7 separate regions of the Homo sapiens genome follow, and all the other regions are linked to region 7. The links come from fine-mapping of genetic effects on gene expression. A gene starts in region 7. Each other region holds a variant in brackets. All regions are shown on one strand. Distances are between the middles of the regions.

What was found. PIP is the estimated chance that this variant, and not a neighbour inherited with it, causes the effect.
Region 1: its variant is fine-mapped to the expression of ANKLE2 in whole blood (TOPMed, PIP above 0.99).
Region 2: its variant is fine-mapped to the expression of ANKLE2 in whole blood (TOPMed, PIP 0.99).
Region 3: its variant is fine-mapped to the expression of ANKLE2 in whole blood (INTERVAL, PIP above 0.99).
Region 4: its variant is fine-mapped to the expression of ANKLE2 in whole blood (TOPMed, PIP above 0.99).
Region 5: its variant is fine-mapped to the expression of ANKLE2 in whole blood (TOPMed, PIP 0.93).
Region 6: its variant is fine-mapped to the expression of ANKLE2 in whole blood (TOPMed, PIP above 0.99).

The regions. Positions count from the first base shown.
Region 1 is chr12:132,736,475-132,740,861 of GRCh38, forward strand. It overlaps ANKLE2 (ankyrin repeat and LEM domain containing 2), which reads right to left. Exons shown (of 13, transcript NM_015114.3): 8 at 419-591. Among named protein-coding and RNA genes, the nearest start is that of ANKLE2, 23 kb to the right of the region's middle. The variant C/T (reference allele first, on the strand shown) is at 1,867.
Region 2 is chr12:132,723,182-132,727,498 of GRCh38, forward strand. It overlaps ANKLE2 (ankyrin repeat and LEM domain containing 2), which reads right to left. Exons shown (of 13, transcript NM_015114.3): 13 at 2,322-4,262. The coding sequence ends at 4,061. It also overlaps the pseudogene RNA5SP379. Among named protein-coding and RNA genes, the nearest start is that of PGAM5, 14 kb to the left of the region's middle. The variant T/C (reference allele first, on the strand shown) is at 2,529.
Region 3 is chr12:132,717,977-132,722,363 of GRCh38, forward strand. It overlaps PGAM5 (PGAM family member 5, mitochondrial serine/threonine protein phosphatase), which reads left to right. Exons shown (of 6, transcript NM_001170543.2): 5 at 11-144; 6 at 2,702-4,387. The coding sequence ends at 2,852. Among named protein-coding and RNA genes, the nearest start is that of PGAM5, 9.3 kb to the left of the region's middle. The variant A/G (reference allele first, on the strand shown) is at 2,620.
Region 4 is chr12:132,671,612-132,675,998 of GRCh38, forward strand. POLE (DNA polymerase epsilon, catalytic subunit) reads right to left here. Exons shown (of 49, transcript NM_006231.4): 11 at 4,124-4,209; 12 at 3,787-3,906; 13 at 1,964-2,096; 14 at 1,553-1,666; 15 at 1,016-1,228; 16 at 604-711. Among named protein-coding and RNA genes, the nearest start is that of POLE, 14 kb to the right of the region's middle. The variant C/G (reference allele first, on the strand shown) is at 2,537.
Region 5 is chr12:132,613,745-132,618,131 of GRCh38, forward strand. No RefSeq gene overlaps it. Among named protein-coding and RNA genes, the nearest start is that of P2RX2, 2.8 kb to the right of the region's middle. The variant A/G (reference allele first, on the strand shown) is at 2,221.
Region 6 is chr12:132,653,538-132,657,849 of GRCh38, forward strand. It overlaps POLE (DNA polymerase epsilon, catalytic subunit), which reads right to left. Exons shown (of 49, transcript NM_006231.4): 28 at 3,812-3,892; 29 at 3,599-3,721. Among named protein-coding and RNA genes, the nearest start is that of POLE, 32 kb to the right of the region's middle. The variant G/C (reference allele first, on the strand shown) is at 2,745.
Region 7 is chr12:132,759,668-132,764,054 of GRCh38, forward strand. It overlaps ANKLE2 (ankyrin repeat and LEM domain containing 2), which reads right to left and starts at 2,165. Exons shown (of 13, transcript NM_015114.3): 1 at 1,951-2,165. The coding sequence starts at 2,131. RefSeq lists enhancers at 1,511-2,379, 2,734-2,833 and silencers at 1,614-2,203, 2,294-2,583.

The sequences.
Region 1 (4,387 bases), 23 kb before region 7:
CAGCGGGGGCTGCAGCCACAGGGAAACGTGGTCAGGAGGTGGACGTGCAGATGGAGCTTTCCTAGTCACAACGGGCAGCCTCGCTACACCAGCAAGGTGCCTAGGACGGGCCATCAACACAGCAAGAACAGGGCGACACGCGCACAGGACGGGGCTGGCCCAGGGAATGTCTGCTTTGTTGAGACAGTGGCTCCCAGCACATCGGCCCTGGTAAGCAAGCCACAGAGCCAAGAACACACATTTCTCTGACAAACGTTCTCATCACCAATCACTGGTGGATGGTTTGAGATGAGGACAACCTTGGGGCTCCACAGGACATGGTCCCTGAGACCACGCACAAGGCAACAGGCTGGAACACCCAGCAGCACAGTATAGGGACAGCCAGGCACCACTTCCAGAAGCTTCTACAGCAGCTCACCTTGGCTGGACTCAGGGGCCCTGCGAAGGCTCTCAGGGTCAGTACCGGGTCTCTGGGGCTGCCTCCATAGCGGCTGACGTGAGAGGCCTCAGCCGTCTGGTCTGGGGACCACAGCTCCCCGATGACTGGAGAAGAAGTCTCTTCCGCTCTCAGGAGGGGCACGTAGTAGTGGCCTGAGGGAGGAGACAGGCACTGGCTGCAGGCTTCCGCCCCCTCCGCAGGTCAGGCCTGGGTGAGCAGGACGGGGATCACGCGAGCCCTTGCCAAGGCCTCTGCAAATGGATCCAACAGACGGGGCAGAGGGTGGTTTCCGCCAGAGCTCACTGCACTTAATGCAAATGGATACAATGGAAACAAAGTCACACAAGGTCTCAGAGCTCACTTCACTTAACCAGCCTCATTTTCCTCCACTGCTACAAGAAAAGAAAGAAAAGAAAAGGAAGCCCCAGGTAGTTAAAGGACTAAGGGGTCGGACCTGAGTGAATAAGAGTAGCACACAGTAGGAGCTTAATACATTTTAAAAATGTTATATTTCATTCCAGCCGGGTGCGGTGGCTCACGCCTGTAATCCTACCACTTTGGAAGGCTGAGGTGTGTGGATCACCTGAGGTCAGAAGTTCAAGACCAGCCTGGCCAACATGATGAAACCCCATCTCTACTAAAAATACAAAAATTAGCCGGGTGTGGTGGTGGGTGCCTGTAACCCCAGCTACTCATGAGGCTGAGGCAGGAGAATCACTTGAACCTGGGAGGTGGAGGTTGCAGTGAGCCGAGATCACGCCACTGCACTCCAGCCTGAGCGACAGAGTGAGAATCTGTCTCAAAAAAACAAAAAAAAGTAATATTTTATTCCTTCTCTCCTTTTTTTCTCCTCTTAGTTTCAGACAGAGTCTCATTCTGTCACCCAGGCTGGAGTGCTGTGGTGCAATCATGGCTCACTGCAGCCTCGAACTCCCAGGCTCAAGGGATCCTCCCACCTCAGCCTCTTGAGTAGCTGGGACCACAGGCATGCGCCACCACACCCGGCTAATTTTTACTTTTTGTAGAGATGGGGTCTTGCTCTGTTGCCCAGGCTGGTCTCGAACTGCTGGATGCAAGTGATCATTCCACCTCCACCTCCAAAAGTTCTGGGATTACAGGTGTGGGCCGCTGTGCCCAGCCTCCTCGCTTCTCAGTCCTGCTTCTCTTGTAGTTTATCACAGGTGTGGGCTGCTGTGCCCGGCCTCCTCGCTTCTCAATCCTGCTTCTCAATCCTGCTTCTCTTGTAGTTTATCACAGGTGTGGGCCGCTGTGCCCGGCCTCCTCGCTTCTCAGTCCTGCTTCTCTTGTACTTTACAATTTGCATCACTGAATACGCATCTCTCAACAGATCTGGAATCACACGGCACTTGGATGTGAGTATGGAAAAAGCACAAGGAAGAGTAGTGTCTTCAGGTCCCACGGGACAG[C/T]GCAGTCAAGCCATATAGGATAGTGTCGTGAGGTTCTGTAGGTTGCACGGAGGCCACACACCACCTCGTCCTGCTTTCAAACCCAGCTCCTGGAGACCCAGAGTCAAGAGGCTTCCTTTACAGTCAATCATGCTACTCTGGAATGCCTGGGAATTTCTTATGTTAAAGGCTTATCATAGTTTCATAGTTTTTTTTTTTTTTGGAAACAGAGTCTCGCTCTGTCACCCAGGCTGGAGTGCGGTGGTGTGATCTCGGCTCACTGCAAGCTCCACCTCCCGGGTTCACACCATTCTCCTGCCTCGGCCTCCCAAGTAGCTGGGACTACAGGTGCCCACCACCACACCTGGCTAATTTTTTGTATTTTTAGTAGAGACGGGGTTTCACCGTGTTAGCCAGGATGGTCTCGATCTCCTGACCTTGTGATCCGCCTGCCTCGGCCTCCCACAGTGCTGGGATTACAGGCATGAGCCACCGCACCCGGCTGCTTATCATAGTTTTTATGCTTTTAATTTTTTTCTAATTGTAAAAGTGCTGTATGCCCATCAACGGTCAACTGGATAAAGAAAATGTGGTACATATATACCACAGGATATTAAGAACAAGATCATGTCCTCTGAAGTAACATGGCTGGAGCTGGAGGCCATGACCCTAAGGGAACTGACACAGGCAAGAAAACCAAACATGGCTCTCACTTATGAGTGGGAGCCAAACGCTGAGCACACATGGACACAAAGAAGGAACAAGAAGTCAGCAGGGCCTGGTTGAGGGTGGAGGGAGTGAGGAGGAGGGAGAGGATGGAAAAACTACCTCCTGGGTACTATACTGATCACCAGGTGAAATAATCCGTACCCCAAACCCCGGTGACATGCAGGTTACCTATATAACAAACCTGCACACTTACCCCTGAACCTAAAATGAAAGTTAAGAAAAAGTACGACAATTTCCATTCAAGAGTACTGAAGGTACTGAAGAATTTCCATTCAAGAGTACTAATTTTCCATACTGAAAATTAGGGCAATTCAAATACTCTGTCTTACATATTACTATCTTATATTTGGATGCATCCTATGTATGTTGGCATTTTACAGGTTAATTGGCAGTTTTTTCCCTCTTTCAGTGGCACAGGAAAAGAAGACATACAGTATGTACAGTATAGGGTGCATGGTAGGTATACGGTACAATTTACCTACACTTTACTCATAAAATACTAATGTTTACTTTTTTGGCATATTGATTTGAGTCCCTTTTAACAATTTCTGTCTACAGATGGGACTCACGGTCTCTGGACAGTTTTGTGCCTGGCTTTCTGATCCTATTTGTCTCTCATAACACTTTAGAGTCCTTCCTCATCTTCACACAAGCGTGGGTCTCTCTCTGAGTGACGGGAAGGGTGGGATGCAGGATGCAGCCAGCCCTGTAGCAGGCTCTGTGGCATGTGAAGCTACAACGTGACCGAGGCCCCAGCGTGACCACAGATGCTGACCATGCCTGGGCTTCGCATGAGCCTCAGAAGGACCAGGAAGGAGGTGTAGGAGCTCTGGAGGTGCCGTGTAGCTCAGCCCACAGGAACATGGATCTCACAGAGCTGCCTTCTCCTCAGCAAACAGCTGCTGGGGCAGATCTTAGAGGCGACAGTGTTTTACTGTCACACATAGGCAAGGATCTCTCAGACAGAATTGCTTCCTAAATACCATCACAAAGCAATGCTTAATGTCAGCGTTGCAAAGCATTTCTGACAGTGTGGTTTGAAAATCCGGAGCAGACTCTCGGCTCTTCAGGGATGTTCTGGCAACATAGCTGTGTGTTCCCAGGGCCTCTGAAGGTTCCGGCTGGGCCTCTGCAGCGACGCCTCAACGGCCCTGAGGAGGAACTCTCGCCGCTAACAGCATGCAGGATTCATTTCCTGTGCACAGCTACACACACTGAAGAAGTGTAATTAATAAATTATACCTAGGACGGGAACAGATCAGGGGACAAGCAGAGGCTCTTCACACCTTAGATCACGCTTGGTAAACTTCTATAAAATGTCAGACAGTAAATAATTAGGCTCAGTAGGCCACAAGTCACTGTGTGCTGGGAAAGAACCCGGACAGTGTGCAAATGGTGGTGACAGCTTTATGCTGATAAAATTTTATTTTTAAAAGCAGTCATTTGCGGACCCTGCTTTAAATAGAGACAGAGTTTTGGATAGGAATGGAATCCGAGAGAGAGGAAAGCAGGCAGGTGGGTGAAAGGACCTCAGCGTCTGCTTCAATCTCACCAGCAAGCAGAAGCTCCAGACTTCGAGCTAAGATGGCAAAGAAGAGGCGCTTCTAGAAGTGTCATCTTCCAAAATTCACTGAAAACAGAGGAAGATGGCAGGGAAAAGCCATCCCTGAAACCAGCCGTTTTCACATGCCTGGCACCTACAAACCGCAAGGCACAGGGGCCAACAACTAGAAGCTGCTGACTAGAAGAGGGCGGCCCAGAAAGCAAAGGCCTCTCTCCCAGAGGCGAGTGGGGAGGGAACGTCCCGGAGGCG
Region 2 (4,317 bases), 37 kb before region 7:
GCCAGTGGCCTGGGCCCTTTCCAAATCCCTGACCAGGACGGCAAGGCTGACCAATGGTTGTGGAGACAACAGCCACAGCAACCATACACCACTGTCTAGAAATAGTTTGATAAGCCAGGGACGCGCCAACTTCAAAAACAAATACCAGGCACGCTCACGTTTGACCTCAGACGGGAGCAAGGCTGGCGAGGAAGCAGTCCGGGATGCTCTAAGTCAGCTACACAGGGCGCCCACGCCACAGCCCCAACGCTGGGCCTCCAGGGATGGGGCAGCGCTGCAGGGCTAAGCCTTTGTTCTGCTTAGGGCCCCGGCTCCTCTGTAAAGTGGGAAAGCTTGGAGGTGGGAGCAGCGCCAGCACGCCTGGCACTGAGGCAATGCTCAGAGCAGGCGCAGGTTTGCTGGGCAGCAAAGCTCATCACAAAGTGGAATGACCACACATCAGCTGGCCCCAATGCCCTGCGCAGCCCACGGCCACTCCCATCGCTCACGTCATAGACGTGAGTCGCACTCATGTGAAGATCTGGACAGACTACCTGGTCTAAAGGGGGAAGTGGATGGGAGACCACGAGCAGTTTTCAATGGATCACAAGAAACCAGTGACCCAGAGTCTTCAAATCCTTCTGCAAAAAAACAAACAAAACCCAAAAGGAAAGAAAACCTGATTATGCTGCTTAAGTCAAATCTGAAGTCAAGGATTTTGAAAAGTTAAGCCACAAACTCAGTGTGTGACTAATTCTTTAAGAGCGTACAGCAATGATAACCAAGTCTACAGCCCTTGGTATTCCCAGGCAGCCTCCACTCCAAGTCCTAACCAGGCCCTGCTTATCTGCCAAGATCAGAGAGACTGGGTGTGCTCGGGGTAGTATGCCCATAGATGATTACCTAAGTTTCTTGAATATGAAACTTTAAATAATTTTTAGTTTCTTTTTCTAGAGTAAATTCCCAGCAAACTTTTTTTTTGAGACATACTCTGGCTCTGTCACCTGGGTTGGAGTGCGGTGCCACAGTCTCGGCTCACTACAACCTCCGCTTTCCAGGCTCAAGCGATTCTCATGTCTCAGCCTCCCAAGTGGCTCGTTCTACAGGTGTGCGTCACTGCACCTGGCTCATTTTTGCATTTGTGGTAGAGATGGGTTTCACTATGCTGGCTAGACTGGTCTCGAGCTCCTGGCCTCAAGTGATCCGCCCACCTCGGCATCCCAAAGCACATGAGCCACTGTGCCTGGTAGACTTCCCTTCTAAAATACCTGCTGTTCAAAGTGGTTCTTCCTTAAATGGCCTTTTCCAGTCTTCTGCATGTGGGACGGACGTAGATTAGCAAAGTGAGGATGGCTCCCGGTTTGGCTGGTAGCTGGTGGGGGTCTAATTTCTGAATGCTGGACTCAGGGCAGGTATGGCGGGGGAGAAGGCAGGGAGGGGCAGGCAGGAGACTGGGGAGTGGGGAGCTGACCCATACCAGGGCAGCCCCCAGGGATCTTCAGTGTGCATGTTGTGAACGCCTGCGTGGAGGGAGCCGCATGAGGGGAAGGCTGAGGGTGTCTGGACTGGGTGAGTTACAGGGGCCCAGCGACGTCAACGATGGAAACCGTCCCCTGGTTTGGGACAGACTGAAGACTTCTCACATGTTAGTAACGATAGCCTCTGTCTGGCCAAAGTGAAAACTGCACACCAGAAGCCTCAATGAGACTGGTGGGAAAGGCAATGCCACCAGATGGCGGCCAGCTGCCAGGGGTCGCCATGCCGACGTTTATCCCAAAGCCTTTTCTAAGGAGGGAGCACGGGCGGGAATCTGCAGCTGGAGCAGTCACAGGGTTTCCAACCACGACAAACACGCCTGCACCCCGCACGCACAGCCGGGCCCCAATGAGGGTTTCCATCAGCCCTTCCCTGGGAAAACTCTGCAGGCTTCTGGAAACATCCACACGGCTCTGGAGGACCTGGCTGTGGTCCCTGCCATGGCGCCGCTGGCACTCCCACGGCTGGTACGCAGCACCATGGCTGCTTTTACCCAGAAACGAGCAGCAGACTCACCGGGCGCCTCCCTCACAGCTGCCACCACGCTGGAGAAGGGCACTTTCCAACCAAAGCCACCACAGCAACTGTTAATGTCACCAAGGTTTCCCACTGCCAAGAGCAACGGTAAAATCTGTGCTCTTTTAACGGATGCCAGAAAATCTTTCACAACTGAGTCAAGAAAGGGGCTTAAAAACAGCGAGCGAATCTGAGGGCACCCAGGTTGATGGCCGTCCAACCAAAACAGTGCCGTGCGCCTGGGCACAAGTGAGGGATCCTTCCGAAAGCTTGCAATTATTACCACGCGGTTTTGAAGTAATTCATTTCATTAAGTGTTTTGTGAAGGACATAACCCCCCGGGACACACGAGAATGCCTCCGTTGGGACTGGAATCGCTGCCCACAAACAAACGGAGAAACAGTCAAAGGTGGCCTAAGACCTGGGAAATCAGGAGCAGTGGTCCACATACAAAATCAGGGCCAAAACGTTTTACTTTCCATTTGAATTTACAACCA[T/C]ATACAGACAATATGGTAAGATTTTAGAGAAAACAGATCATCACTACGAATATCCATATTCTGATTTCTTTTGAGAACCAAGGTGCCTTTTAAAATGCGGCTTTTTAGAATAGCATGTGTTGTTTCTGTCTGGGATCTAGATCTTGTCTGCTACAAAACAAATGAACACACCCTGTGTAACAAAATCGAATTTTAACATTTAAATCTTGATTCCAATATTCCTGACCTATCTCTTGTCATATGAAAGAAAGAAGCCTTTTTTTAAAACAAAGTTTCAATTCAGAATTTTTACAAACAAAAACAATCCTGCGTCTACTTAATATCCCTGTATATCCTCAAAAAGCAAGTTCAGGAAATTTAAAAATGATTTATAAAAGGCACTGAAGTTAGCAAAAGCATTGGTGGGTTTTCATTTTGGATTAAACACTGGAAATGTTCACAGAGAAACAACTGTGTGAGCAGTTGCCCGTAACACCCAGGAAGAAACCGACCTCCAGGCAGCACCTCCTGAACACCTCAGCGGCTCCTCACACATTCCAACCACAGACCTTCATTCAAGTCAAGGTGAAGGCTACAGTCAGCACGGCAAGAAACCAAGATGGGACTCAAACCTCTAAATGCAACACTCTGCATACAGGAGATCCCAACTGAAATGAGTTCCAAAATAACGGATACCTTTATCGTATAATCATTTATGCTCAACAAAGCCTCAGGATAAATTTGAAAACAGAACAATGTATAGACTGTATTACTGCTGCACTGGCTCCTGAATGAAGCAGGCGGTGAAGGCTCACGTGCTGAGGAAACAGGGAACACCTTGGCGCCGCTGCTGAGCTCTGTGTTGCTCCTGGTATCACTCCCACGGGCTGCAAGACTTCCCAAGAGAAAAGCTACTTTCATCTTCTGATCAGTAATTTAAATATTCCGAACAACCCAAATCACAATGGTTGCTGCAAGTCTGAGGCGCGCTCCTGGCTCCCTGATCCCTGCCGTCCACCTCCCTCTGTCTGAACCATGAGACCCACGGGCGAACCAACAGGCACTCTGCCACCATCAGATGCCACCCCCCAACCCAGGAAAAGACAGGGCGGCAAATAGTTCATCTTGGTGAGTGCAGGTTATCAAAGGGACATCGGTGCTCACGCCTCCGCCAAGCCCCTCCTCATCCACAGCGTCTGTCGGATGAGGTGAGTACAGGGTAAGTACAGGGCTGCCTGCCTGCAACTGCCTCAGCGCCCTTTCCTCTGCTATATTTCAGACCTAGAAATTGCCACCTAAAAAGTCTACCATTACCACATGGATATTTTCCAGAAAATTGGTAACTGAGTTTGCTTTCATTAACTTCTAACTTCTTCCAAAATATCAGAAATCTAAGTGTTATATAGAACATTTAAATCTTCTAAAATTCTCACACCCTCAAAGTGAGGAGTAATAATTTAATCAGAATATATTCCTTTTTGACAGTTTAGCAATAAACATATGACCCTTCCTTCTTTAAAAATGAAGAACAAACCGAGAGCCCAGCGCCAAGCCTACAGGGCGGCAAGCTCAGCCAGGCGCGCCATCCTGCGGAGCTGGCTCCCGTGCACGGGGCTGTAGCGCCCAGGACTGCCCAGGCCTGGCTTTGCGGGGTTGCTTCCAGCCACGCTGTTTCTCCCCGGACTGTAGCTGTGAGGGCCACTGAGATCTGGCAGCTGAGACTTGAACCTTCCTTTCACCGCGGGACTGGGCCAACTGCGGAAAGCAAGAAAGAACTGTTAGCAGACGGGCACAGGCCCGGAGATGAACA
Region 3 (4,387 bases), 42 kb before region 7:
CTGCCCCCAGCAGTATTACGAAGACGGAGCCCGGATCGAGGCCGCCTTCCGGAACTACATCCACCGCGCAGATGCCAGGCAGGAGGAGGACAGTTACGAGATCTTCATCTGTCACGCCAACGTCATCCGCTACATCGTGTGCAGGTAGGCAGCTGCTGGGCTGGGCGTGGTCTAAAATAATTTCAGACTTAGAGAAAAGCATGAGGAAGAAGCCGAGCGAGACCCTCCTCCACTGCCGATGCCACCCTAGTCAGGCCTCACCAGCCCCCGGGCGTCCACTTCCCGCGAGTCCTAGTCAGTTACGCGGTAGGTGGCGTGTTACTTGGAGCTTCTCATAAGGCTGTTTTGGGCAAGGGTGGTGCAGACAGGGAGGGACCCCTGTGGTGTCCTGGGTGGGGTGCGTGCTGGGTGGGGGGTCCTGAGTGGGGTGCGTGCTGGGTGGGGGTGTCCTGGGTGGGGTGTGTGCTGGGTGGGGGGTCCTGGGTGGGGTGCGTGCTGGGTGGGGGTGTCCTGGGTGGGGTGCGTGCTGGGTGGGGGTGTCCTGGGTGGGGTGCGTGCTGGGTGGGGGTGTCCTGGGTGGGGTGCGTGCTGGGTGGGGGGTCCTGGGTGGGGTGCGTGCTGGGTGGGGGTGTCCTGGGTGGGGTGCGTGCTGGGTGGGGGGTCCTGGGTACGGTGCATGCTGGGCGTCCGCACTGCCCTGGTTGTTTTCCCTTTGTAATTGAACGTCCTGTTTCCCCTCAAACTCGACCAACCACCTTCTGCCTCCGGCTGGATCCCACTGGCAGCATCCCGCCGCTGTTGTCCGCTGGGGATTTTGTGCTTCTGGGGTCCTGACCTCTTTCACTTGCTGATCTGTGGGCGCTCCCACCCGTGTGCCAGCGTGACGGCTCGGGGTGTCCGCTCCCCTCTGGGTCGAGGCCACAGCTGAGTCACGTTGCTGCTCGGGCTGCTCCCTCGGGGGGCCCTTGTCCCTCAACCTGCTCTGGTGCCCCACTCTCAGCACCACAGAATGATCCGGGTTCAGGTTGCGTTTTCCCTGCCACCACCCTGCAATCAGCCACTTCTTTAAGGAGCTCCAGGGCTGCAGCCACGTTAGAGGGCCCCTTGGGGGGCAGGGCCAGCTCTACGGTTACATGCCTGAAACAGTCAGAAGGGTTGGCCAAATCTCACTAAATGCAAATTTGAAACAAATTTGCCTCTTCTCTGGATCCATTAGGAAATGTGTGTGTGGGCTCCGCAGCTGAGGGGGCCCTCTTGAGTGTGACGAGTCCTGTGGTGGGAGGACAGGACGGCACTGGTCAGTGATGCCGTGTGAGGCTGGGCCCTGGTCTCTGCCCGTCTGTCACCTGGGCCTGTCACCAGGGCTGGGGCTGCTGGGAGCACCATGGTCAAGAGCAGCAGCTCCCAGAAAGTCGAGGATGTACGGGCCGAGATTCTCAAGCTTGGCTCCAGACCAGATAGAGCTTTTCTGGGGGTTGGAGCCTCCGGGTGGTGTGGCCTCAGGCTAAGTGAGTACCTGTTTGCTGTGAGTCGTTCGTTGCCTCCTGTCTGTGCTTGTGAATGAGCCATATGGGTGGCTTCTATGCTGCCACCACCACCTTGTGTGTCCATGACACAGTCACCCCGAGGTGACACAAATGCTAAAAATGCACAGAAATAACCGGGGCGGGAGAGTGGAGCCGACCTGAGTCCACACAGTGGTGAGGGCCAGGCACGTGCACCTGGACACGAGAATATGGCTGTGCTGTTCCGGCCGGTGCCGCCAGGCAGCCCTGAGGAGGCTCGGGAAGCAGCGTGAGGGTGGCCATGCGGCCCACTGAGACAGGGCGGTGGGTGGCTCAGAGGCGATGAAGGCAACTCCGAGCTTTTCCGCAAATGCGAATTGTGCCTAAGAAGTGCATGAAGATGCCACGGCGGGTAGATCCCATCTCCGTTCTTTGCTTTCCCAGAAAGGGACCTGTTGCACTAACTGGCTGCTCCCTGCTTTTATATGGGAAAAGCAGAAATTAAACTGTGTTTCCTCGTAAGAAGTCAGCGTTGTTCTGATCTGTGCAAATCTTGAGTTGGGGTTGGGCCCCTGTCCTAAAGAGGGCAGGTCCCCAAGTGTGATGGCTCCATTCATGTCGATCCCAGTCATCGATTCACGTCGATCCCAGCCAGATCTTCCCCGAGAAGCCCCGACTGAAGACAGGAGCGGCTCGGCTGATGTGTACCCCGGCCCTGAGGCTGCTCTGAGACTTCTGAGGGGCTCAGCCTCTGTTTGTAGAACAGAGCCCCCTGGCACAGCCTGGCCCAGCCTCTTTTAAGGACAGAGTCCCCTGGCTCTAGCCCAGCCCGTTTTTTTTTTTTTAGACAGAATCTCGCTCTGTCACCCAGGCTGGAGTGCAGTGGCGCGATCTCAGCTCACTGCAAGCTCCGCCTCCCGGGTTCACGCCATTCTTCTGCCTCAGCCTCCCAAGTAGCTGGGACTACAGGTGCCTGCTATCACGCCCAGCTAATTTTTTGTATTTTTAGTAGAGATGGGGTTTCACCGTGTTAGCTGGGATGGTCTCGATCTCCTGACCTTGTGATCCACCCGCCTGGCCTCCCAAAGTGCTGGGATTACAGGTGTGAGCCACC[A/G]TGCCCGGCCTAGCTCAGCCCGTTTTAAGGACAGAGCCCCCTGGCTCTAACGTGCTCTTTCTCTCTCTCTCTCTCTCCCCAGAGCACTGCAGTTTCCTCCTGAAGGCTGGCTCCGGCTCTCCCTCAATAATGGCAGCATCACCCACCTGGTGATCCGACCCAACGGCCGAGTTGCGCTCAGGACCCTCGGGGACACGGGGTTCATGCCTCCCGACAAGATCACTCGATCCTGAGGGCTCCGGCCTCTCCTTCCCTCTGTCCTCCCTGCACAGGCCGCACACACTTAACGTTTTGTTCCCAAGGAGACCGGCGGAAAGTAGAAACCTGCAATGCTGCATCTGGGAACTGACTTGTGACCAGGCTGAGAAGGGGAGAGTTGGGATCAGACAGCCTGACTTCTCTGCAGGGTTTTATACCTGACCATGAACCCCCAGGATGGCGTGGGGTTTAAGGTGAAAGCGTCTCACGCACAAGTCAGGCCTGTTGTGGGGACTTGAAAGAGGCCTGACCCAGACCACCATGTTCGCACCCACAGCTGACCCGTGCTGAGGGTCCAGGCTCCATTGGCAAAGCCGGTCAGGCACGAGGGCGACTGAGGCACGTGGATGAGGAGGGCACCCAGGTTCTGTTCACAACTCACTTCACTTCATACATCCTTTTAATTTCTTAAAACCCTCTTGTCCCTTAAATATTTGTCAATTAAAGATTTTCTGGCTGGGCACAGTGGCTCACACCTGTATTCCCAGCTACTCAGGAGGCCAGGGTGGGAGGATCACTTGAGCTCAGGAGTTCAAGACCAGCCTGGACAAGGCAACATAGCGAGACCCTGTCTCTACTAAAAATACAGAACTTAGCTGGGTGTGTCGTGGGCATCTAGAGTCCCAGCTACTTGGGAGGCTGAGGTGGGTGGATCACTTGGGCCCGGGAGCTGGAGGCTGCAGTGAGCTGTGATTGTGTCACTGCACTCCAGCCTGGGCAAGCGAGGGAGACTTAAAGCAATTTTTTCTTTTGAAACGGAGTTTCACTCTTGTTGCCCAGGCTGGAGTGCAGTGGTGCGATCTCGGCTCACCGCAACCTCTGCCTCCTGGGTTCAAGTGATTCTCCTGCCTCAGCTCCCGAGTAGCTGGGATTACAGTCGCCCACCACCATACCTGGCTAATTTTTTGTATTTTTAGTAAAGACAGGGTTTCATGGAGAAACCAATATAGAATTGTTCAGGCTGGTCTCGAACTCCCAACCTCAGGTGATTCACCCACCTTGGCCTCCCAAAGTGCTGGGATTAAAGGTGTGAGCCATCGTGCCTGGCCTAAAAAATTTTTTTTTCTTCATCTGGGTTTTTGCTTTGAAAACAAGTTTCTCCAAATTTACAGATTTCCTGATGATGTTGGGTCTGAACTCACCAACTTGATTAGGTCTTTAGGGGCCGAGGGACTAGCCAGCTGCACAGGTGACTGGATGGGGGAGGGGCAGGTGAGGTGGGTCTACAGAGGTGGCTTCGCCTTTGACCTTCATGCTGGTCTCGGCTGAGGTGACACGCTAGTGACAGCCCAATAGGGGGTTACCCTTATTGAGTAAAATACTTCAGATTGACAGCTCAATCTTAGTTTGCCTCCAGTTAATCTTTTATGCTTAGGGATTAAATGTGTGGTTTTTTTTTTGTTTTTTTTTTTTTGGAGACGGAGTCTCGCTCTGTCACCCAGGCTGGAGTGCAGTGGCGCGATCTCGGCTCACTGCAACCTCTGCCTCCTGGGTTCAAACGATTCTCCTG
Region 4 (4,387 bases), 88 kb before region 7:
TGAGCCAAACTCATGCCATTGCACTCCAGCCCAGGCCAACAACAGCGAGACTCCATCTCAAAAAGGGAAAAAAAAAAAAAAAAAAAAAAAAGACCTGAGATGTGCCATGTCCTGAGGAACAGGGATCAGAGAAGAACTGGTGTCTCCCTCTCCAGTCACATAACACACTTTGTAAGTGTGCTTTCTAACCATTATGTAAACAGATTTTACAGTCACTAATCCTGTCATTTGTAGGAATTTACTGTCATTTTTAAGTCTCAACAACAAAAAGTAAATAAAATTTAAAACCTCCAATGGCTCCCCAGTGCCTATAAAATAAAGTCCTAATGCTTTAAAACAGGACACGGGATACATCCCACCAGGACCCACCTTCCATGTTACTGCATTTCAGGAGCAGCTCACACCCCACCTCTCATGAAGCCCTCCGACCTTGTGACAGCATCACACGTCACAACCATGACTGCCCTGTCCCACCAGAGACCCTGTGTCATCCGTCCACAGCACCACACGCAGCAGGTGCACAATAAACGTGCTGCTGAAAGACGTGGTCTGTGAAGAAGGCGCCAAACACAGACTGGCTCTTCCTGCCTCCCTGATGGTTACCTCTTCAAAGTTGGTGACTTGCTCCACAGGCACTTTCTCCTCTTCCTCAAGGGCGTGGCGCAAGGTCTTCTCAACCCGCTGCAGCAGGAAGTCAAAGGCGGCAGGATTCTAGCACAACAGTGAGACGACGGGGTCAGAGGGGAAACACACCCACACTAGCCTGCCTCAGGTTTGACGCTGTGGCTGCACGTGGCAGGTTGTGCCCGAGAAAGCTCCGGAAGGACTCATGTGCACAATCTGCAGTGCACTGCCCTAAAGAAGCCCCCGGGGGGTGCTGGGCCAGAGAAGCCACACCCGGTGAGGGGCCGTGGGACAGGATGGGGAGAAGGGGCTTTATTTCAGCCCCTGCAGCTTCTGGGTCCTACCACAGCACAAGAGTGGGAAGAATCTGAATCCCAGGGAAGAAGCACACCATCCTAAACCGGCAAGGGATATCGCTGCGGAAAACCCCAGACTCGAGGGCCTCCACGTGGCCCCCGACGTAGGTCTCAGAGTCCAGCACGTGTCCGTCGTCCGTCAGCTTATTGAACTCCTGCTCTTGCTTGTTGGGGAAGATGATGTTGGCGTGGAAGGCCTGCACCATCAGCAAGGCCTCACACAGAGTGCCAGAGCCCTTCCGCAGCACCTGCAAGAGAAACCAAGGCTTCCAGCCAAAAGCAACACCAAAGGCCCTGACTTGCAGGCAAAGTCCAGGAACCTAAGCTGAACTTCAGTGTGAAAGGAGAGAAAACCTCGTGGTAAATGGCTGCAAATTCTGCCTCCTGTGGTTTCTTCCTCACACCAGGGCCAGAGAATTCCCAAAGGACATCCCTGACGTCACACACCAGAATTCTACTGCCGCCTCTGGTGCCAGCACTCCTGGGACATCCACCTCCATTCAGCTCCAGTGCATTTGGAATGGGGCAAGGGCTGAGGAGGCCAGGGTGCCGACAGGACAGATAATGCTCACCTCGTCGGGCTCCATGGGAATAATGGTGCACAGAGCAAAGATGAATGGGTGGACGTACTTCATGTACAGGTAGTAAGTGGCGACAGCATCTGACACAGAATACGTGGCCAGAGTCTGAGGAGAGAACGCCAGAGAGCAGGGCCATCAAAAATCAAGAGCCCAGGGTCAAGTGTGAAGCACAGAAAGCAAAGCCTGGCCTGACCAGCCTGCCGCACACACAGTAAGGAGACCGGCACAGGACAAAACACGTGTGTCCCGGAGACACAGCCTGCTGGGTGGAGCGGGCTGGCATACATGCGTGCACACGGCAGCAGGGGGAGCCGGGATGTGGCTCACATGCCTGGGGCTGCTCCGTGGCCATCTGGATGCGTGCACACGGCAGCAGGGGCAGCCGGGATGTGGCTTACGTGCCTGGGGCTGCTCCGTGGCCATCCGGCACATGTCCTCCGGGTCTAGCTCCACGGGATCATAGCCTAGCTTGGCCTTGGCGGCCGCCTTGAGATTATGACTGCCCACAGGAAGGTAACTGTCCCTCTTCACCCACCTGGAAGGAGAATGAGAACAGAAGCCAGGATGATTCTAACATGCAGCCCGGGAACCCCTGAGAACTGGCAAAACTGGGCACCACACAGACAGATGCAAGTTCCTAACAGGCACCCAGGAGCCTCACACCAAGGCCCCACATGGTGTAGACACCTTGTGAAAACCCTTCATCAGGATCTAGTTAATCTCACAGACCTATCCACAACACAAGGAAGCACCAGGACTGGTCCTTCCGGCCCTCGCCTTCCTCCCATCCTCAGCAGAGTTTGTGGCCTCTCCGACGGGCGCCCCACCTCCTTGGGCCTCTCCCCAGACCTCAGGTCTGCACCCCTGGGGCCTAGTTCTATCAACCACACTGATCTTCTCTCCTCACACTGTCCCTTCAGCACGGAAACACTCAAGCCCACCCTCCTTTAATAGAAGGCAAGATGTGATCAGATG[C/G]CAAGAAGAATAAAAATTTAAAAAATAAATAAAAAATAAAAATTAAGAAAAGAAGGCCCCCCACACTCTACCCGGAACCTGTCTCTACCTCCTCCCTACAGACGCATTCCCTGGAGCAGCTGTCCAGGGGTCATGTCCGGTCTCCACCCCCCGCAGCCTCCACCCTGTGGCCTTCTTCTCTCACTTTACCTCTTGCCTTCAGTTCATCCACTACCCCAGCTTTCACCAAGACCCACCCGCAACCCAGTGAGTCCCAATCTACAGTGCGAGCCCAAACCAAGCCTCATGGTGGTCTTCAGGGCCCCCATATGGGTGGGGCTTCCAGGCTAGCATATCGGTAGCAGGGTCACCTCCTGCCTCAAGCCCCTTCTCTACCCATTCCCTGTCTCCACGGATGGCACAAAAACCCCAGGTGCCAACCCCTCCCTAAGAACCAGCATCCCTGGGCCTCCCCCTGCCCCACATGACAGATCCTGAATCCTCACAACCCTCACTCCCTGCCTTGGATCAGGACTGTCACACCGTCACACGCTAAACCGGCCCCAGCCTCCTGGCCTCCCTCTCCAAGCCAAGTGCTGAGCATCAGAGCTAAACAGAAACGCATTCAGGCTGCAAGCACCCCAGTGGCACTGTGCAGAATACAGAGGCCGTGGAGGCCCCTCCATTCCCTTCCTTCCCTCCCTCCCTTCCCTTCCTTCCCTCCCTCCCTTCCCTTCCTTCCCTTCCCTCCTTTCCTCCCTCCCTTCCCTTCCTTCCCTTCCAGCCTCCTTCTGTTGGCATTTCCACATCCACCTGTCTTCCCAACCAGTCATGTCAGAGCCCCCGAACGCCGTGACTCTCCGAAGCTCTGAGCTGCCTCCCACCCTAGCTCATATGGAATCTGTGGTTGTCCCGTGAGGCTTGTCCTGTGAGGCAGCCGGGCTGCCACATCCCAACCTTGCCTGGGCAGAGCAGCTCCATGAGGTCCTAGGTCTGGGACCTGTCAGCTGAGTGCGTCTTTCCAGCGGCTTCCCCACCCCAGAGGCTGATGCTCAATGTGCCTGGTCACTGATGAATTGTCAGTCAACAGTCAAAGACAGCACATCCCGGGCCCTGGCAGGGTTGCAGCTGCCATACTCTTGGGTGACCTGAAACGGCCTCTCGGAGGCCACCCTCCTCCCATGAGATGTGGTGACAGCACAGTCTGCAAGAGGCCTTCAGATCTCGCTCACGGACAGCAGTGAGGAGCCATGCTGCTCTGTGGCCCCTACCTGAGGCAGTCCATGTGGATGCACTGGGGCGCCTTGTACTCCCCCTGGCTGTCCTTCTGGAAGCCTATCTCCTGCTGCATGCTCAGACCGTGGACTGCTGCCCGGGCCTCCACAAATGGCCTGGGTTGGAAAGAGGACAGACAAGCAAGTGGGCAGGTCAGGCTCTAATGCCCCTTTCTCCATTCCTCCCTCAGACCCAGGGAGGAACCCAGACACGGGAGGTGCAGAGTGAACCCAGGAGCCACCTCCTAAGTCGACATGGGAAGCGCCCCTGCACCACGCAACGCCCTCCCTCTCAAATGCTGCCCAGTTACTCATAGAGAAGACACAGACTCACCAGTCAAAAAAGTCCCCGTTGTAGGTGACCATGATGGTGGGTTTGGTCTCCTGGACGTGTTCAAACCACCTTTGGATCAGATGAGCCTGAACCCAAGTCACAGCAGTCAGAGGTCTGCTCTTTCTCTTCTTCAAGCTATTCCAAATTCCTCTCCCAAAGTTCAGAAGCAGCAGCCTCATGTTGGCCCTTATTCCTGCCCCGCCCCTCCGCCCGTCTCTGGCAGAAAAGACGGTCATACCCTGAGAACAAAGCTCATGGAGCTGC
Region 5 (4,387 bases), 150 kb before region 7:
GCACTTTGGGAGAGCAAGGTGGGAGGATCGCTTGAGCCCAGGAGTTCGAGACCAGCGTGGGTAACATAGGGAGACCCCATCTCTACCAAAAAATAAATAAAAAATTAGCCAGGCATGGTGTCTTACACCTGGAGTCTCAGCTACTCAGGAGGCTGAGGCAAGAGTATCGCTTGAACCCAGGAGGTGGAGGTTGCAGTGAGCCAAGATCGTACCACCACACTCCAGCCTGGGTGACAGAGTCAAATACTATCTCAAAAAAAAAAAAAGAATTATGTTGTCACTTGAGCACAGTGGCTCGTGCCTATAATTCCAGAACTTTTGGAGGCCAAGGCAAGATCAGTTGAGCCCAGGAGTTCGAGACCAGGCTGATGGGTAACCCAGTGAGACCCTGTCTCTACAGAAAATGGAAAAAGTAGCCTAGCGTGGTGGCACGTGCCTGTGGTCCCAACTACTCAGGAGGCTGAGGTGGGAGGGTCACTTGAGCCCGGAGGTCAAGGCTGCAGTGAGCTAGGATTGCACCACTGCACTCCAGCCTGGGCAACAGAGTGAGATCCTATCTCAAAAAAAATTATGAAAAAAAATTATGTTGTCAAACTCATAGAAGTGGAGAGTAGAATGGTGGTTGCCAGAGGCTGCAGAGAGGGTAAAAGGGAATTGCTCCTGAACAGGGATAAAGTTTCAGTTTCAGTTATGCAAAATGAGTATGTTCCAGGTCTGCTATACAACATCACACCTGTAGTTAACAATACTGTATTGTTCAATTAAAATGTTGTTAAAAGGGTGGGTCTCATGTTAAATGTTTTATTACAATAAAAAATAATTTTTAGGAAGAAAGTTGTTAACTGGGTTTTTGTTTGTTTGTTTGTTGTTTTGCAGATATCCTTTAACAGACCTAAAGCTGTGTGATTTCTAGTAATCCACCTTTCAGAGCGTGACTTCCACCCGTCTAAATCCCTGGGAGTGAACTCATGGAGTTCTGGGGGGAAAAAAAATCCTGGGAGGTCGGGTTGGCCACAAAGCCCAAGATGTTCCCCAATTTACTAATTAGGTTAGAATTCCACACAACCAGCACCTCACCACCACCAAGAATTCTAATGGAAACTTTCTTCAGTGAAAACTAACTTCATTTATTTCAAGGCTGGTGCTAATTTTGGTTGTTGACTGCTTTGGCCTCCGATTATGGGAGGTATCCTGGGTGGGAACTGTCAGGGGAAGCTACTTGGAAGGCAGGACTGAGCCGGACCAAATTGCAAGATTCAAACCAGTGAGGAGGCCCAACAGCGGATTCTCCACAGACCCAGCAGAAGCTCTCGGGGGCTGGAAAAGGGCGCCACCTGGTGGCATCTGAGCAGAAGTCAGTGACACGTTTTCACCCACATGTCAGTACAGCTCCCGAAGCAGGTCCAGCGGAAAAGCTCCGGTATGAAGCTTTTCCCTTTACAGTGTGCTGTGAGGGTGTGTAACCACAGTTAATGGAAAGGGACCTCACTGGACTCAATCCAGTGACATCACACATGCCGTGTCTCCCACCCACAGAGAGAACTCCCAGGTCTTGAGTATGTGATGCCTGGAGCCTCATCTACCTTCTGAAGGCATCGTTCAGGCACGCTTTACATATGAGCAGTGTTTGGATTATTAATTGGAAAGGTCAGAACACCGTTTCAGCGGGTATATGAAAGTGATAGCAGCGGTGTCTGGAACATAAAGGAGAGTGTGTTTGTCCACTCTTCCTAGGGACACAGGGACGGGGACACTCCCCACTCTCCCCTGGGACACGGGAATGCTCTCCACTCTCCCCTGGGACACAGGGACGGGAACACTCTTCCCTGGGACACATGGGGACGCTCCCCACTCTCCCCCGGGACACAGGGGGACACTGTCCACTCTCCCCTGGGACACACGGGGACACTGTCCATTCTCTCCCGGGACACACGGGGACGCTCTCCACTCTTCCCTGGGACACACGGGGATACTCTCCCCTGGGACATATGGGCTGTCCACTCTCCCCCGGGACACACGGGGACGCTCTCTAGTCTTCCCTGGGACACACGAGGACTCTCTCCACTCTTCCCTGGGACACATGGGGACACTCTCCAGTCTCCCCTGGGACACATGGGGACGCTCTCCACTCTCCCCTGGGAGTTCCAGAGTGACCGTCATCGTGAAAAATGACAGGGATTGATGTAGTTTCCTGGCTTTTGACATTAACCCACAAACCCA[A/G]CTACCACTCTGGGTTTTTCCTAGAGCGTAAGCCTTAGCTGACGCCATCCACACATTATGGTGCTGTGGATTTTCCTGTAATGAAAAGGAAAAGATTCAGACAGCAGGAAATAAGGGGCCAGGGGGAGGCTAAGGCTGTCATGATGGCAGAGAAGTCTCAACCCATGATCTTGGAAAAGCTGTCCACATTTAGGATCCCGTCTGCTTCTGGGGAAAACTTCCCTGGTTAGCTTCACCTTAAGGTCTCCGAAAGGTGTACGGTTCCAAGAATCTGGAGGGGTCTTTTTGAGTTTGGGGTTAGCCGATTTTTCTAAAATGTGCACAAGTTCTGGGTCCATAGTTCTTACACACATAATTAGCAAACGTCCCAGAAGGCGGCACGCAGACTCCTTGGATTCAGACAAACCCAAGCCAAAAGGGACCTACTCAAGGCCTCTAACTGGATACAATAGAGTTAAGTTTTGGATCCAATTCAATCCTGGACCCATTCCGGTCTAAGAATTGCTCAAGGCCGGGCGCCGTGGCTCATGCCTGTAATCCCAGCACTTTGGGAGGCCAAGGCAGGTGGATTGCCTGAGCTCAGGAGTTTGAGACCAGCCCAGGCAACACAGTGAAACCCCGTCTCCACTAAAATACAAAAAAATTAGCCGGGCGCGGTGGCATGTGCCTGTAATCCCAGCTACTTGGGAGGCTGAGACAGGATAATTGCTTGAATCTGGGAGGCGGAGGTTGCAGTGAGCTGAGATCACGCCACCGCACTCCAGCCTGGGCAACAGAGTGAGACTCCATCTCAAAAAAAAAAAGAATTGCTCAAAGTAGAGGGCTCAAAACACATGGTCATAGAGCACAAATCCAGCAGAGAGAACTCACCTATGACTCTAGATGCTTTGAGAGATCAGCAGGCACACAGGCCCTACTGAGCATTCAGTGCTCCTAGGGGGTGGCTGGAGGTCTACTTCAGATCCCACTTCTGACACCAAACTGTTAAAACAAAAACTTTGGACAAATTAAATTTAAGAGTTTGTGTGTGTGTGTGTGTGTGTGTGTGTGTGTGTGTGTGTGTGTGACAGAGTCTCCCTCTGTCATGCAGGCTGGAGTGCAGTGGTGCAATCTCAGTTCACTGCAACCTCCACCTCCCAGATTCCAGTGATTCTCCTGCCTCAGCCTCCCGAGTAGCTGAGATTACAGATGCCACAACACCTGGCTAACTTTTGTGTTTTTAGTGGAGACGAGGTTTCGCCATGTTGGCCAGGCTGGTCTCGAACCCCTGATCTCAAGTGATCCACCCATGTTGGCCTCCCAAAGTGCTGGGATTACAGGTATGAGCCACTGTGCCCAGCCAACAGAGTTTAATTGAGCAAAACACAACTCATGAATTGGGCAGCACTCAGAACCAATGGGGGAGGTTCGAGAGCTCCACTCTGTAATGTGGGCAGGAAGTTTTTATAGATAGAACACAGAAGTGAGATACAAAAAAAAAAAAATCACAATTAGCTTGATTTTGTTACTGCTTGAAATGTTTGCCTTATATGGCATGATCAGATCAGTTAGCAGCCTGTGACTGGCTGAGACCCAGCTATTTGTTCCAAAATATACTCATAGGTTAAGCTTTTAGCTTGTTTCTGTGGTACATTAGGTTGCAGTTTGTTGTTACCTAGAAACTCAAGGCACAGAGGCAGCCTGTTAATTGAGTTAATTTAACAGTTCAAACAAATACTTATGCACCAGTGTTTATAACAGCACTATTCACAGAGTTAGTTTGAAAGCAATCTAAATTCCTTCTTTGGATAGCCTAGACATTTCTCCTGGCCATAAGAAGGGGTGATGCCCTGACACATGCTACAATGTGGATGAACCTTGAAAACATGCTCAGTGAATGAAGCCAGACAGAAAAGGCATTAACCCAGAAACAAATATTGCATTTCCTTGATATGAAATATCCAGAACAGGCAAGTCCATTCACTGAGACAGAAAAGCGACCAGTGGTTGCCAGGGCATGGGAGGAGTGTGGAACGGGTCGTGACTGCTTAATGGATGGGAGTTTTATTTTGGGGTGGGGAAAGTGTTTGGGGACGAAACAGAGGCGGTGGTGGTTGCACAATGTTGTGAATGTCACTGAATTGTTTACTTTAAAATAGTTAATTACATGCTATGCTGATTTTATCAT
Region 6 (4,312 bases), 110 kb before region 7:
GGTATCTAATTGTTGCTGAAATACATATAAGTTAACACAAAATCTAGGTTTCCTTACATTTTCTGTTAACAAATTACATCGCCTGTAAATAATAAGTTGATGTCTCCCTTTTCAATCCTTAATTCTTTTTCTGGTTTAATTATGCTGGCTAGGATCTCCAAACTGTTTTGAACAGAAGCAGTGGTTAACAGGCATCCATTTCTTACTCCTTACTTCAATGCTTCCAGTGTTTTGTGGTTAAGTATGAGGTCTGCTGTTAGGTTTCAAGAACACTTTATCAGGTTAAGAAACATCTCATCTATTCTGATTTTGATTGTTCAAACTTTAACATGAGCAGATGTTAAAGTTTTACCGCATGTTGTTTCTGCATCTATTGGAGATGATCTTACGAGCCTTCTCCTTTAATGATGAATTAGTGGATTTCTCCCAAGAAAAACTAACCTGGCAAATTCTAAAATTAAACAGTGCTTGCTATTCCCAGCATAAGTCCTAGTTGGTCATATTGTTATTGTTCATGTATGTTGATATTTTTTCATCTATTGTTCATGGCCCGTAACTTTCCTTTCCTGTTTTCAATTATGTTACCAAAGTAACAAGGATTGCCAAGGTTACCAAATGAGCTAAGGGTTTTTTTTTTCCTTTTTCTCTTAAAAATCATTTGGGTTTGATGTTTCTTTTACACTTATTTTTTTTCGTCTCTTTTTTTTTTCTTTTTGTGGAGAACGGGGTCTCGCTATATTGCCCAGGCAGGTCTCGAACTCCTGGGCTCAAGCTATCCTCCCGCCTCTGCCTCCCTGAGAGCTGGGATTACAGGTGTGAGCCACTGCGCCTGGCCTGTTTCTTTTTAAGTGTCAATTTCTGTAATGGTTAAAGTTCTATTCAGGTTTTTATTACTTCTTAGGTCAGTGCATAACTTGAGGATACTGTCCGTTCCATCTATGTTTTCCAACTGTTTAGCAGAAAATGGGAATCCTTCCATTTTTTTAGGCTTTACTATATCTATAATGATGTCTGTTTTCATTAAAATAAAAAACTCTGTCCTGAAAAAGATGTGACCAGCCAGGACAACATGACAAAACCTTGTCTCTACAAAAAATTACAAAAATTAGCTGGATGTGGTGGTGTGCGCCTATAGTCCCAGCTATGCAGGAGGCTGAGGCAGGTGGATCAATTGAGCCTGGGAGGTCAAGGCTGCAGTGAGCCATGACTGCGCCACTGTACTCCAGCCTGGGTGACACAATGAGACCCTGTCTCAAAAGAAAAGAAAAAGATGTGACTATTTTCCTAAGTCTTTTCAAAGAACAACATTTTGGTTGTATTGTTTGTTTCACTCATTCTGGCTCAATTTTGTAACCTCTTTCTTTTCTTTCTTGAGTTGGGTTCTCCCTGTGTTGCCCAGGCTGGGGTGAAGTGCCTATTCACAGGTGCCATCATAGCCCACTACAACCTCAAATTCCTGGGCTCAAGCAATCCTCCTGCCTCTCAGCCTTCCGAGTAGCTAGGACTATAGGTGTGCACCACCATGCCTGGTTACCTTTATAACTCTTTATAACTTCTGTCTACTTCCTCTGATGGATCTGTTGTTCTCTAACTTTTTCAGTTGGAAACTTAATTTTCTATTTGTTTTTCTTTACTAATACATGCATTTAGATATATAAATGCGTATACAAGTCCTGTTTAACTGCATACTACAAATTTTAATAGCATTTGTATTTACATTCAGTTCCAAGTATTGTCTAAGTTCTATGACTTTTTTGATCCACAAGTTATAAATGTGTTTTTTTTTTCTTAAATTTCCAAACATGGTCTGTATTTAAGTTATCTAGAATTGGTTGCAGCTTACTCTGTGGTATATATATGGTCATTATTTTATGTATTCTTGAAAAGGATAGGTATTCTCTAATTTTAGTGCAAGACTACATTTGTTCACTAAATGTATTATAGCTAGTGACTAAATCTAGTTAGTTGATTGTGTCATTCCAAACATATTTTTGCTGATTTTTGGTCTGCTCCAACTATCAATTGAGGGAGGGATGTTAACATCTCCCAAACTGATTGGAGGTAAATTCTTCTTATAATTAGGTAAATGTTTACATTATTTAATGTGAGGCTACATTGTTACAATTAGTATATATTTCCAGAGAATTGTGACTTTCAGTATTATGTAACAATAGTCCTTATGTTTCCTAATACTTTTGGCCTAAAGAGTATTTTGTCTGGTATTAATACAGCCACATCAGCTTTCTTTTGGTTAACATTTACCTGGTATACGTATTTTTTACTCCTTTTGCTTTTCCTGCGTCCTATCTTTTCAATATAACTCTTGAAATTGTTATACTGGCCCATAAGCCACTGGGCGCAGTGCTGTATTTCCAGCACTTTGCGAGGCCAAGGCGGGTGCATTCACCTGAGGTCAGGAGTTTGAGACCAGCCTGGCCAACATGGTGAAACCCCGTCTCTACTAAAAATTTAAAAAAAAAATTAAAAAAATAAAAATTAGCTAGGCATGGTGGTGCGTGCCTATAATCCCAGCTACACTAGAGGCTGAGGCAGAAAAAAATTAAAAAAATAAAAATTAGCTAGGCATGGTGGTGTGTGCCTATAATCCCAGCTACACTAGAGGCTGAGGCAGGAGAACTGCTTAAACCCAGGAGGCAGAAGCTGCAGTGAGCCAAACCCAGGAGGCAGAAGCTGCATTGTGCCACTGCACTCCTGCCTGGGCAATAGAGCAAGACTCCGTCTTG[G/C]GGGGCAGGGGAAAGAATACATATATAACTCTTACAAATAAGACAGTTAAATTTTAAAATCCAATCCATCTCAGAACCTTTTTCTTTTTTTTTTTTTGAGACGGAGTCTCGCTCTGTCGCCCAGGGGAGTGCAGTGGCGTGATCTCGGCTCACTGCAAGCTCCGCCTCCCGGGTTCACGCTGTTCTCCTGCCTCAGCCTCCCGAGTAGCTAGGACTACAGGCGCCCACCACTACGCCTGGCTAATTTTTTGTATTTTTAGTAGAGATGGGGTTTCACTGTGTTAGCCAGGATTGTCTCCATCTCCTGACCTTGTGGTCTGCCCACCTAGGCCTCCCAAAGTGCTGGGATTACAGGTGTGAGCCACCGCACCTGGTCAAAGAACCTTGTTCTTGTCATGTGAGTTTGTATACTGCTCTGATTTATAGCTTACTTTTAATTTTCAGCATTTAAGAATTTTCCTTTTGCTCTTCTGACTTTCACTGTACCTTTTATTACACTGTGTCCTGTGTTTCTAAGTGTTTCCATAGGGAAGATATTCATTTCACATTCAGAAAACTGGGGCTTCAAGAGACAGTGATTTGCCCAAGGCACTGAGTCTAAGTAGTGCACCCTAATATTTTCACATAAGGAGACAGTTCCTTGCCCTCACCTCAGCCTCACAATGGTGTCCTATTAACAAAAGAGTGACACTCAGAGTTAGAGAGTAAAGTGCCAATGGGCACATTTTCAGAAAAAGTCCATTTTCGATGCTTGAACAGAAGCTTCACTACAGCACACACAGCAGCGCAAGAAGCCTGGAGTCCTGTGTGTCACAAGGATCCCGCCCAGCCCAGCCTTGGGGCCCCACCGTCACCTGTCTCCTGCCCTCCAGGGTGAAGAGCTCACTGATCTTCTTCTGCTTGTAGACATCATTCTTCTCCAGCAGTTTTTTGTGCAGCCAGTCGGGGTGTTTGACACGTGGCACTGGGTTCTTTACCTGTGTGAGGCCAACACCCATCAGAGAGAGACCCTTGTCTAACTGCACAGTTTTTAGCCCCACAGCCCGTGCCACTGACCCCGCCCTTACCTGCTGCAGGGCCGCAGGGATGGTGATGATCTTCTGGATGGCGCTTCCCAGCCGCTCAATGTAGTAGTCCCAATCCAGAATCTGCATGTGCAGGAAACGGGCACAGAGAACAGCAGGTGGCAGCAGCCAAGAGTGGGGCTCACTTCATGCTGAGCACAGGGCTAACCACTGTGTCTTATTTAATCCTCTCAGAAACTCTATGATGAAAGGTGCCCATTGCACAACAGAGGACACCAAGGCAGGGAGCTTCACTGACTCCTCTAGATCACAGAGCTAGTAGGTGGCTGAGCCAACACCCCTGGCCTTAGTCCATCCAATAGAACAGCTAAAGGGCCCCAGGCACTTCATGTTTTCAGTTTTGCCCTAAAAGGTTATTAGGTGCTCACCTATTACTTATCAGAAAGGAGGAAGTCAAGAGTGAAGACGCCAGACAAAAAACATAATCCAACTCAGACATATTCTGCTCTGTCTAGCTTTCCTTGTAAACTTTTAAGAGTAGAG
Region 7 (4,387 bases):
CACCTTGTCCGCAGCTCTGCCTGGATGATGCCGCTGGTGACAGTAACAGCACTCAGAGGTGCTTAACACATACCAAGTGCTGCACTTACCCAACTCCCAAAAAAGCCTAACCAGGTATCACTATCATCCCCATTCCTAAAAGAGCAGGCTGAAAACAGGTTAAGCCCACAGCAATAAGTGGTAGGGCCCGGTGCGATGGCTCACACCTGTAATCCCAGCATTTTGGGAAGCTGAGGCAGGTGGATCACCTGAGGTCAGGAATTCGAGACCATCCTGGCCAACATGGTGAAACCCCGTCTCTATTAAAAATACAAAAATTAGCCGGGCGTGGTGGCAGGCGCCTGTAATCCCAGCTACTCGGGAGGCTGATGCAGGAGAATCGCTTGAACCCGGGAGGCGGAGCTTGCAGTGAGCCGAGATCGCGCCACTGCACTCCAGCCTGGGCCACAGGGCGAGACTACATTTCAAAAAAAAAAAAAAAAAAAAGTGGTAGGGCCGAGACACAAACTCACACAATTGGACAGGAATCCCCACTCAATCATCAGAAAGCACCTCTCCGCAGTGACTAACAGTCTGACAATTTAGAGTAAAAACAAACTCAGTTTCTCCCACTAGTCTTGCAACATGCTTCGGACACCAGGTATGTGGGGATTTTCTCCCCACAAATCACGCAGGTCGTCAGTTCTGCAGTGGACACAGGCTGGGTGTCGTCTGTCATCCTAATTCAGTCATCTATTCTGACAGCGTCTTCCTGGAGATACCAGCAGACCCCCACAGGTTAACGGCTCAGCCCCGCAAGACTGCCCCCCACTTCCAGTGCCCAGGTTGTTTGACCTGCGCTTGGGACCGACGGGGCGTAACCCGGTGACCTCCTCAGGTTGCGGTAATTTGCTAGAGTGGCTCCCGAACTCACAGACATGTTTTACTTACACTTACCAGCAGAGTATAAAGGATTACAAAGAATACAGGTGAAGAGATGCGTGACGTAAAACCGGGGGGAAGCGCTTGGAAATTCAGGGCCTCTCTGGGCACCGCCTCCAGGAACCCCCACGTACTATCTGGAAGCTCCCTGAACCCAGCCCTTTTGGGTTTTTACAGGAACTTCATTTCACAGGCGTGATTCATCAGCCACTGGTGATCAACGCAACCTTCACCCCTCTCTCCTCCCCAGAGGTTGGGGGTGGGGCTGAAAGTCCCCAGAACCTCTAACCCTGCCTTGGTCTTTCCTGCGACCAGCCCCATCCAGAAGCTCCCTAGGGGCTGCCGGCCACCAGTCCACTCAGCCTACAAAAGACATCACTTTGGAGGTTCCCGGGATTTCAAGAGTTGTATGCCAGGAAAAGGGGATGGAGCTGAAATACACAGTTCACTGTATCAGTTACCTCAAACTTAAAACGACCAAAACCCACCTCTGATCTCCACATCACCCAGACCCGACAGTCTACCGCAAAGCAATAAATGGCCACCTTCTCCCTCTTCCTCTGGCCCCAAACCCCTGAGTTACATTTGCCTTTTCCGTCTCTGCCTTATGTTCCATGACCAGTAACCGCAATGGCTTCACGTTCCAAACACATCCGGGACCCAGGGGTTTCCTCCCCGCGCCGCCCTCCTTTGGGCCATCCCTCCCCAGGTCTCGAGAGACCGCAGCAAGAGTCTCCGCTAACGCCTCGCCGGGCCCCCGCCGCCTTCCCCGGAGGCTGCTCCAGGGCCCGGGAAAGCTCTCACCCCCGAACCCGGCGTGGCCCCTCCGCCCCCGGCCCGGGAAGCCAAGTCCCCGCAACTGCCCTTTCCGCGGCCGGAATGGCCTTTCCCGACCGGCCCTGGTTTCCCCGGCCGCCTCGCCCAACTGCTGCCGGCTCCAGGGGCGCGGCCGGGACCCCAGGCCCGAGGAGGGCGTCGGGGCGGGGAAGGGGCCAGGGTGCGGGGACCCAGCGACCGCCTGGGCCTTACCTGAGGCGGGGGCGGCGGCCGCGCTTGGCGGAGGAACTGGGGTCCCGCTGCGGCCCAGACCTCCCGGCCGCGGGCCCAGCCGCCGCACCAGCCACCGCACAGCGATCAGCAGCACCGAGGCGCCCAGCAGCTCCCAGGCCAGCGCCGCCCACTCGGCCGCCGCCAGCCGCGGCCACAGCATCGCCGCCGCCCGGGCCGCAGCCGCCGAGAAGCCCGCGCCCCGCGCCGCGCCCGTCCCAGGACCCCGCGCCGGGCTGCCCGCGCCCTGCCTGACGGCGCCGCGCTCGAGGCGGCCGGGGCGGCGCGGGGGACACGGACGGCGGCCCCGCTCGCGGAGGCCCGGCGAGGGCGCGGCCCCGGCCCTGGGACCCAAGCGGGCGGGAACGGGCGAGCGGACGGGCGGGCGCGGCAGGCGGGGCGCGGGCAGCCCGACGCGGGGTCCTGGGACCGGCGAGGCGCGGGGAGCGCAATGTGCTGGCGGGGGCCGGGGCTGGGGCCCGGGGAGGCCACCAGGGCGGGGCCGGGCGCGGGGCGGCGCTTCTTCGCGCCTCCCGGCCCCGGCCTGGCGTCCGTGGGGCGCTGTGCGTCTCCGAGAACGAAGCGGCCTCCGGGTTCGTGTGCTCCGAGCCCGAGTACTGTTTGCGGCCGTCGTCCCGTCCTGGAGCAGGAGTGAGGAAGCGCCTCTCACTCCCCCGCGAACCCGCAGAACAGGCCGCCGGCGCTATGGAGACCGGCGGAGCTTCCCGCTCCTTCACCAAGGGGCCCTGACGCGCAGTTGAAAGCGCGGATTTTGCCGGGCGCGGCGGCTGCGTCCGGAGTCCCAGCGCCTTGGGAGGCGAGGCGGGAGGATCCCCACGGCCCGGGAGCTCGAGACCAGCCCGGGCAAATATTTTGAAAGTCATGGTAAAAGCCGCAATTACTTTTGCACCAACCTAATAGTGAGACCCTGTCTCGAAAAAGGGAAGGAGGATTTTACTGTATGTAATTTAGATGTTTTATTTATTTTTTGATGCGGTGTCTTGCTCTGTCGCCCAGGCTGAAGTGCAGTGGCGCGATCTCGGCTCACTGCAGCCTCCGCCTCCTGGGCTCAAGCGATTCTCCTGCCTCAGCCTCCCAAGTAGCTGGGATTACAGGTGCCCACCACCACGCCTGGCTAATTTTTGCATGTTTAGTAGAGACGGGGTTTCCTCATGTTGGCCAGACTGGTCTCGAATTCTTGATGTCAAGTGATCCACCAGCCTCGGCCTCCCAAAGTGCTGGGATTACAGGCGTGAGCCACCGCGCCCCGCCTAATTTAGATATTATTAAATGAAAATGAAAGACCTGAAAAATATAATTGATATCCTTGGTTAAAAACATAATTGATCTGAGCGAGGTGGCTCAGGTCTGTAGTCTCAGCAACTCTGGAGCGTGAGGGGTGATGGTAGTTTCAGTCCGGGAGTTCGAGGCTGCCATGAGCGTGATCTCGCCTGTGAATAGCCACTGCACGCCAGCCTGACCAACATAGCAAGACCCCATCTCTTAAAAAATATCATTGGATGGTACTAATGGTTGGTTGGGCACTACAGAAGAAAGGGTCAGTAATTTTGAAGATGGATGAAATGGAAATTCAAACCACGATGAGATGCTGCTTGAAATCCACCAGAATGGCTAAAATTTAAAAATTGGCAATATCAAATTTTGCTGGCAAGAGCAAACACTGAGTTAACCACCTTGGAAAATAGTGAGGCAGTTTCTTTCAAAGTTAAACGTACACCTCTGCTGTATTCTGAGTGTCTGTCCCCAGCGTTCGTATGTTGAAACCCTAACCCCCCTTGGCCGGGCGTGGTGGCTCACGCCTGTAATCCCAGCACTTTGGGAGGCCGAGGCGGGCAGATCACGAGGTCAGGAGATCGAGACCATCCTGGCTAACACGGTGAAACCCAGTCTCTACTAAAAAATACAAAAAATTAGCCGGGCATGCTGGAAGGCACCTGTAGTCCCAGCTACTCGGGAGGCTGAGGCAAGAGAATGGTGTGAACCCGGGAGGCGGAGCTTGCAGTGAGCCAAGATCGCGCCACTGCACTCCAGCCTGGGTGACAGAGCGAGACTCTGTCTCAAAAAAAAAAAGAAACCCTAACCCCCAAGGTGATGGTATTAGGATGTGGGGCTTGTGGGAGGTGATAGGTCATGGGACAGAGCCTTATATACTTCCCTTAGAAGAGGCCCAAGAAGGCTGGGCACGGTGGCTCACACCTGTAATCCCAGCACTTTGGGAGGTCGAGACAGGAGGATCGCTTGAGCCCAGGAGGTGGAGACCAGCCTGAGCAATATGGCGAGACGCTGTCTGTGCTAAAAATTTAAAAAATTAGCTGAACGTGGTGGCACACGCCTTGAGGAGGGAGGATTACTTGAGCCTGGGAGGTCAAGGCTGCAGTGAGCGAAGATTGCGCCATTG